Homo sapiens: one gene and its partner. The protein of the gene in region 1 purifies or fractionates together with the protein of each later gene. This does not show direct contact. Each region holds a gene or a part of one and is shown on either strand. Other genes may lie near its edges.

Region 1 (3,650 bases):
TCAAAAGGATTCTGATAAATAGATGGGCAGAGATATGTTCTTAAAATATTCTCTTTCTTCTCTGTATGAGTGAAATCTTGTAGGGTACATAATTTTAGGAAATATTATTTAGTGCATTATCATAATCCAACAACAAAAATGCAGTTTATCACCACAACTTCTGACAATATGTAAACATTTATTTTGTAATTGAGTTGCCTACCATATTGCCATTATACTGAACTTCTGGTCTTTTCACCAAATATAAAGCACCTGGTGTCAGACTCTATATTTCTTTTTATACTTCTTTGCTATCATTGCATAGATTAGATAGATAGACTAGATTAGATTAGATTAGTTAGATAGACAGGCAATACATAGTCACACACATATATTATAGATGTTCAAGAAATACACTTGGAATGAATGACTGAAGTATACATAATTTATATATACACAAAATGTTTCTAGACGTATTTTCAGAAATACCCCTAAGGAGTAAGGAATGTTGAGCTTTGCCATGAACATGTATTATTTTATGACAATGTATTCAACTAATTAACTATTTCAAAAATTGTTAAAGCCTGGGAAAGGGAAGGATGAAGAAACATTCTGGGCAGCAGGGAAATTGTAGCAACTCCACAGAAAAGCCTAGGCTATCCTCCTAAGTTGTGAGGTCATGCCAAAGCTATAAAAGAATAATTTCTTATCTACTTACATGCCCAGGAAGACATCCTTTGCCTCAGCATAGTTTTTGCAAACATCCTTACTTTCAACAAAATCAGCAGCTAATGAAGGCAAGTCAGCAGGCATCTCATCATTTTCCACTTCGGCAATGCAGTGGGATTTTTCCAACAGAGGTTTTTCACAGCATTCCTTCAGTTTACTGGAGATCGAATCTTGATTTTCACAGATATACTTGGCAAGGTCCGCCTATAAGTAAGTTGGTGGAAATTGTTCAACACGAATTGACATTGCTACACTTTCTCCTCAGACCTTTATTAAGTTGGCAGAACATATTCATTGTATTCTAAGACCATACACATATTCCTTCTATGAACATACTCTGTTTGCTCCTAAACCTGGAGATGTAGATAGGACTACAAAAACATTCCCACTTAATTAAAATAGACTAATCAGTAGCAGGTGCTCAGCTCAGTTATTTATTAATTTTATGTTTCTACTGTTAGGGCATTTAAGTTTTTTTCATTAAAACTCAATGCTGTTTTTCCAAATAATCCCCCAAAATTAAGTGCAGGCCTTTTGAAACCAAATAACTAAATAAAATATAGAAGATTTTTGAAAAATGAGTCAAGATCATAGTCATAGGCCCTGCTTACATATATAAAATAACCGCCTTAAATTTTCCAGAAAGTGCCATGAGAGATTAGGATTCTAGTATTTGCCCATAAGTTTAATCTTGAAGAAAGGGAGAAAGAAAATATTATAAGTTTTGAGAAAAGAGATATCATTCCAAATATTTGCACATCTAACAAACAGAGTTAATTAAGGGAAGGAATATAGAGAAGAAAAATACATCATTTCCAAAAATCTCTTCAAGTAGTGACCTTCTCCAAGTCCACCTACCTCCCTCAAAAAATCTTCTTAGGCTGGGCAAGGTGGCTCATGCCTGTAATCCCAGCACTTTGGGAGGCCAAGGCGGGTGGATCACCTGAGGTCAGGAGTTCGAGACCAGTCTGGACAATATGGTGAAACCCCGCCTCTACTAAAAATACAAAATTAGCCAGGTGTGGTGGCGCATGCCTGTAATCCCAGCTACTTGGGAGGCTGAGGCATGAGAATCACTTGAACCCAGGAGGCAGAGGTTGCGCTGAGCCAAGATCACACCATTGCACCCCAGCCTGGGAAACAAGAGCGAAACTCTGTCTTAAAAAAAGAAAAAAAAATCTTCTTAGACATCTACCTTGCAAGATGTTCTGCCAAGTAAAACCTTGTAACTGTTCTACTTCAGTTTAAGCCTTCATTTACAGTTAGAGCATGACTGAAAGGAGTTACAAATCAGTGAATGGGTTTATCTGGTAATTTATAGCCAGGTTAAAAACAGAAAGGTACCACCACCATAGGCAGGGAAAGATTGAAGATAGGACAGACGAAAGCACAGAAGACAATCTCAACCCACTGTCAGCTATCACCAATGATACCAAACGCATCCATTCTACCAACTTGAGCATGCAAGCTACCAAAAAGCATATCGACGACTCTTTACCCTGTCATCAGCACATTCAAGCAGATCTCCATGGCAGCATTCCGTGTGGACTTTGGTAAGATCTGTCACTAACTTGGAAACTTCTGCAAACTCAGCTTTGGGAAATCTCTGGCTCAGGCGAGCTACTGCCCTAAAAAGAAAATCGCCAATCAAAATGGTATTATCATGCGATATTTTATATGAAAACACTAGGCAAATACTATTTCTCATAAGAAAATTCAAAATGGACATACAGAAATAATTTTTAAAATTCATTAGTTCTAGTTCTGAACCAAATGGTAATCACTTATCCTTAGGGCAGAATTATCCATTTAAGAGTGTGTGTGGTAGGTAGAAATCTAGCAAGTCATAAAAGCAGAAATTAAAAAGGAACTCTAAAAGGGGCAACAGGCTGAGAAGCATCAGGTTTGGAGTCCAGATGTGACTTCCAGCTCTGGCTTTATCACTTGTTAGCAGTAGGACTTGTTAGCAGAGGGCTCAGCCTCTCTGAGCTTCAGCCTCTGCAGTGTCATGACAACATGCTAAATTGAAGAAGTTTTGAGGATTAAATTAGATAATACATACAAAAGCATTTTATAATCTGGGAAGTACTACACAAACTCCAGTTATCTTTTTTCTCAATTGAAACACATTTTTTCTGACTTCTAAAGGTCTCTTAGAAAAGAAATCATAACTTCTACAGAATGAGGGAGTTTTTATTGATCTTACTTATAAAAAGAAAGATCCAGCACTATCTTCAAACTCTATGACAAGATGTAAACGTCTAATTTTCTTCATTCTCTAGTCATTTCACAGTTGCCTAAATCAGGTAAAGGTGACTTCTTTCCCAAAACCAATCATAGCCTGTTTATCTGTGTATAATTTTATGTTGGGGCTGTTTTTTTTCATAAATTTGGTTGATTTTGGTGGTGTAGATGGTAGGAATGATGAGCAAATACAGTTCAATTGACAGTTTCTAGAGAGCATGCATAATGTCTATTATTTTCATTTTATTTCCTGTTGTGTTGATTTGCTGTTGACTAGCAGGTGAGGAGTGTGGGTGACGGGGCAGCTAGTATTTTTCTTGACTCGGCTATTAAAGTATGCTCCCAGAACCAACTAAGTAATATGAAAACAGAGGCTCAGGCAAAAACATGAGATGAAGATCAGAGCTGGAGCTATGCAAAAATAAGAAGTAACTTCAACTTAGTTGGTGACTGAATTTAACTATAAGACATAAAAGGACAAGCAAATAGTTTTAGATCATTGGGGGGAAGATAAAATTAAATAAAGGGATTATATATGTTGTATACTTATATCAAAATATCTCATATACCCCGTAAATATGTATACCTACTCTGTATCCACAAAAATTAAAAATAACTTTAAAAAATTAAATAAAGAACCATGCCTACAGCTCTATAAAAATAATGAACCATTAGAATAAGAGTCCAAGATTTTATAA
Region 2 (3,650 bases), on another chromosome or scaffold:
GATGCCAGGTGACAAATAATACAGTTGCCAGCTCTGGGCGACAAGAGAATATGTTTGGTATGACAGTCTTTGTCATTCCCTGAACCATCAAAAATGTCTCGGGCTGGGCGTGGTGGCTCACGCCTGTCATCCCAGCACTTTGGGAGGCCGAGGCGGGTGGATCACATGAGGTCAGGAGTTTGAGACCAGCCTGGCCAACATGGGGAAACCCCGTCTCTACTAAAAATACAAAAATTAGCCTGGCGTGGTGGTGCACACCTGTAATCCCAGCTACTCAGGCGACTGAGGCACAAGAATCCCTTGAACCCAGGAAGCAGAGGTTGCAGTGAGCCGAGACTGTGCCACTGTACTCCAGCCTGGGTGACAGAGTAAGACATTGTCTCAAAAAAAATTAAAACAAAACAAAGAATGTCTCAAACAGATCCTCCTCCTCTGAAACCAAAGACATGCAAGAAGCCCCTGAGCCTAAGCTCTCTCTACAAACGCCACCAACAAAGTCCCAGAGCGTGGGGCCAGTGGCCCCTCCGTCATCTCAGGGGCAGGCCTGTGTGCTCAGAGGATGTGGGCCCAGCCCTTGCGGTTGGACCCCCAGGTGCATGGAAGACCCAGGGCCACCGAGGAGGGGCCGGCCCCTCACCTGTAACACATTGCTCTCCGCCTCCTCCCCGGTGATGACTTCCACTTTTTCCAACAAACACTTCCGCGCTGTTGCCTTGGTGTAGGCGGCTGCCGACTCAGCCAGGGACTCTGAAAAGTTATTGGCCAAAAAGACTGACTGATTATTTGGCGAGAGGAGAGCCATCTCCCCTCATCCGACAGGAGATGAGAGGGTTGGTTCTGGTCTCAAGGACGCCTGCTGCCCCTGGCAGGCCTGCCCCGGCAACCCAAGTGGACCCTAGACACAGCCAGAGCATATGGCCTCAGAAGCTGCAGGGAGACCATCTGGGGGCCAAGTGTGGCCCCAGACTCTCGTGTTCGTGCCGAGCAGTCGACGGGGGGACAGTGAGGGACTCCTCCACGCCTGCTGCCTGCGCCTCCCCACCCTCCCCACGGCCACAAGGCGACACAGGCCCTCGAGTTCTTTATCACAAACCCTTGCTCACTGCAAGGCAGGGCCCTGGAGCTGGTTCACATGTGGTTGTTACTGCTGCGGGAGTCGGGCCCCTTATCCCTCCCGGCTGGGGGTGTGAATGGACCCAGCATCCCCCAAGATGACCTACCATGAGCCCCATGCTGTGGTGGGACGCTAACATACCTTTCTCAGGGGTGGCCTCCTGGGACGAGGACTCAGACCCTGACTCGGCAGCTGCATTTTCCCTGTTGGCATCTGAACTGACCTCGTTTAATTTTGGGGGGCTCTGCAGGGACACAAAAGCATACAAGGAAGAGGGCACTTGTGTGGTCCTTCAGCAGCAGCTCTGAGCACCTCTCTGCCTGGCCCCCAACACTACGCTGCCCCCAGCACTCCTGCCCACTCCCGGTGACACCCTGAACTGCCTGGGAGCTCCCCACGTGGTCCCTCAGGCATCACTACGGGGTGAGTGCCACCAGCCGACAGTCCCCTCGAGCCACACTGGTCACTCCGTCTGGGTGAGGCAAGACTTTGAACATTTCATTGAAATAGAAAAAGCACAGCGTGGCCACGAAGGAAGAGAAGCTGCAGAGTACTTAATGCAGCCTAACTCCAGACAGAGCTAGAGTGACCAGGCGGCTCAGGACAGGCCCTCACGCAGTCGCAATGGAGCTGGGTGGAATCAGGAAGAAAAAGGAACATGTGTAAAGAGGTAGGCAAACCATTCTAGAACCCTCTCCCAGGCTGGCTGGGCTCCTGGGAACGGAGATGGGCCTTTCGTGCACCCAAGGCCTTGGCCGCGGTTATGCTCACAGGAGCAGGGAGGCCAGCAACCCTGTCCACCAGCACGGCTGGCTCCGTCCCACAGGACTTTTGTCAGTTGGCCTGGTGGGGAGGAACCATGGACCCCGACTGCCAGCAGGACCCTGCAGCCTCCAGGGAAGCCCATCTTGGGATGAAGTTGGCCCTGGTCAGCACGGAGGAGCCGGGAAAAGCGAATGCCAGTTCGTAGGCAGCCAGTGGCCCTGGCCAGTTTTCAGGCTGAGTCTGAGCAGGGTCTTCCCTCTCTCACTTGCTACTGAAGGCATCCCCATCTCACATAGGACGACACAGCAGCCCTGCTCTCCATGTCCCCTTGACCTGTGGCTGGCGCCGAGAGCCTCTGGTCCCTGAGAACATTCCCAACACAGCCACTCACCAAAACTCGCTCGCTCATGTTCTGGCCAAATACAAATTTGTTGCTGGAGGCGTCGGCACTATTGGTTGAGTTCTCTAAACTGAAGAGAAGATGTGCAATGAGTGTGGGGCGTCACGTGGGAACGTGGCCAGGCAAATGTATGGGTACCCATGGAGCACACACTGACACAGAGGGCACAGTGGAGGGGCCTCCGCCACTGTGCACGGGGTGGCGTGTCAGAGGCAGGAAGCCACACACCTCCCTGTGCCATTGAAAACATTAACCCTTAGCTCGCCCTGATGGAGGGGCCCCACAGCATGAGGGAAGCCACCTTCCACCTGCTCTACCCGCCCATCTCCCAGTCGGGACACGCTTTCTTCTGAGACACCTGGAGGGGCAGCTGGTCCGTGGGTAGCATTACCCCCAGCCATGTCAGTCAAGGACATGATGAGGTCTTTGCCCCAGGTGCCCAAACCCAGAATAAGGGGGCGCCTGAGTCGCCTCTGGCCTGCTCTGTTCTGCTCTGGGCATGAGGTCCACAAGACAGAGGGCACACTCCAAGGGCTGGGCTGTAGCCTCCATGGGCCCCTGGACAACCCCACAGAACTCTGGTCCTGTCTCAGGCGTCCAGTGAATCCCAGGACAAGGCCCACCACCCTGGCCCACCCAAGGTTGTGCCCAGAGTGGGGAATGAGAGAGAGGGGCCTGAGAGCAACCTGGATTCTGGGCCTGAGTCGGGCACGGGGACCACAGACCCCTCTCTGGCAGAAGCCCTCGCGGCCACCTGCATCGCCATGCCAGGCTGGCCGCTGACACCGAGACACACACCTGGAACTGATATACTGGAGGAAATAGTTCGTTGCGGTTGGCGTGTCTGCGCTGGGGTGTCCAGCATTCTCCATGTCGGCTTCGTCCACGCTCTCATTTATCAGCTGGGAATGAGACGGAGCGCTCAGTAATCGGGGGTGGGGGGGTGCCTGGAGTTCCACAGCTCAGTGTCTGCAGACCCCCTGAGCTGCATGGAGCTGCTCGGAGCCATGAACCCTCTCCTGTACCCGCCTGTGTGTGTGCGCGTGCATGTGCTGGGGGGCAGGGCTATAATCAACTCCATCACCTTTTGCTTTAACAGTTAGGATGGAAAGAGAGCTCATGAAGCTCCAAGGAGCCTTTTCCACCTTGTTACAAAACCACGCCTTGTTATAAAACCACGCCTAAGCTGGCCTCTCGGTCAATGCTTCATACCAATAACACAACGTTACAAAGCTGACGTTTTGGGGGGTTTACTATGAACATGATAGAAGCAGAATTTCTTGAGGGCCTCTTTCCTACCAGCTGCTATGCTGAGTCTGTCAAATGCACGATCTGCTTTAATCCTCACGAGGCCTGGGAGGGGGATGTTAG

What was found. Proteins that work in one complex are often made in the same cells at the same time.
Region 2: the proteins of ALB (region 1) and RANBP3 purify together in Homo sapiens (affinity purification with mass spectrometry; one large-scale study listed by BioGRID and IntAct). This does not show direct contact.

What each region holds. Positions count from the first base shown.
Region 1 is NC_000004.12:73,410,682-73,414,331, reverse strand, and holds part of ALB (albumin preproprotein), read right to left. Parts: intron 2,337-3,650; coding exon 2,207-2,336; intron 913-2,206; coding exon 698-912; intron 1-697. UniProt on the Homo sapiens protein: Binds water, Ca(2+), Na(+), K(+), fatty acids, hormones, bilirubin and drugs. Its main function is the regulation of the colloidal osmotic pressure of blood. Major zinc transporter in plasma, typically binds about 80% of all plasma zinc.
Region 2 is NC_000019.10:5,922,557-5,926,206, forward strand, and holds part of RANBP3 (ran-binding protein 3), read right to left. Parts: intron 3,182-3,650; coding exon 3,078-3,181; intron 2,350-3,077; coding exon 2,271-2,349; intron 1,359-2,270; coding exon 1,256-1,358; intron 748-1,255; coding exon 638-747; intron 1-637. UniProt on the Homo sapiens protein: Acts as a cofactor for XPO1/CRM1-mediated nuclear export, perhaps as export complex scaffolding protein. Bound to XPO1/CRM1, stabilizes the XPO1/CRM1-cargo interaction. In the absence of Ran-bound GTP prevents binding of XPO1/CRM1 to the nuclear pore complex.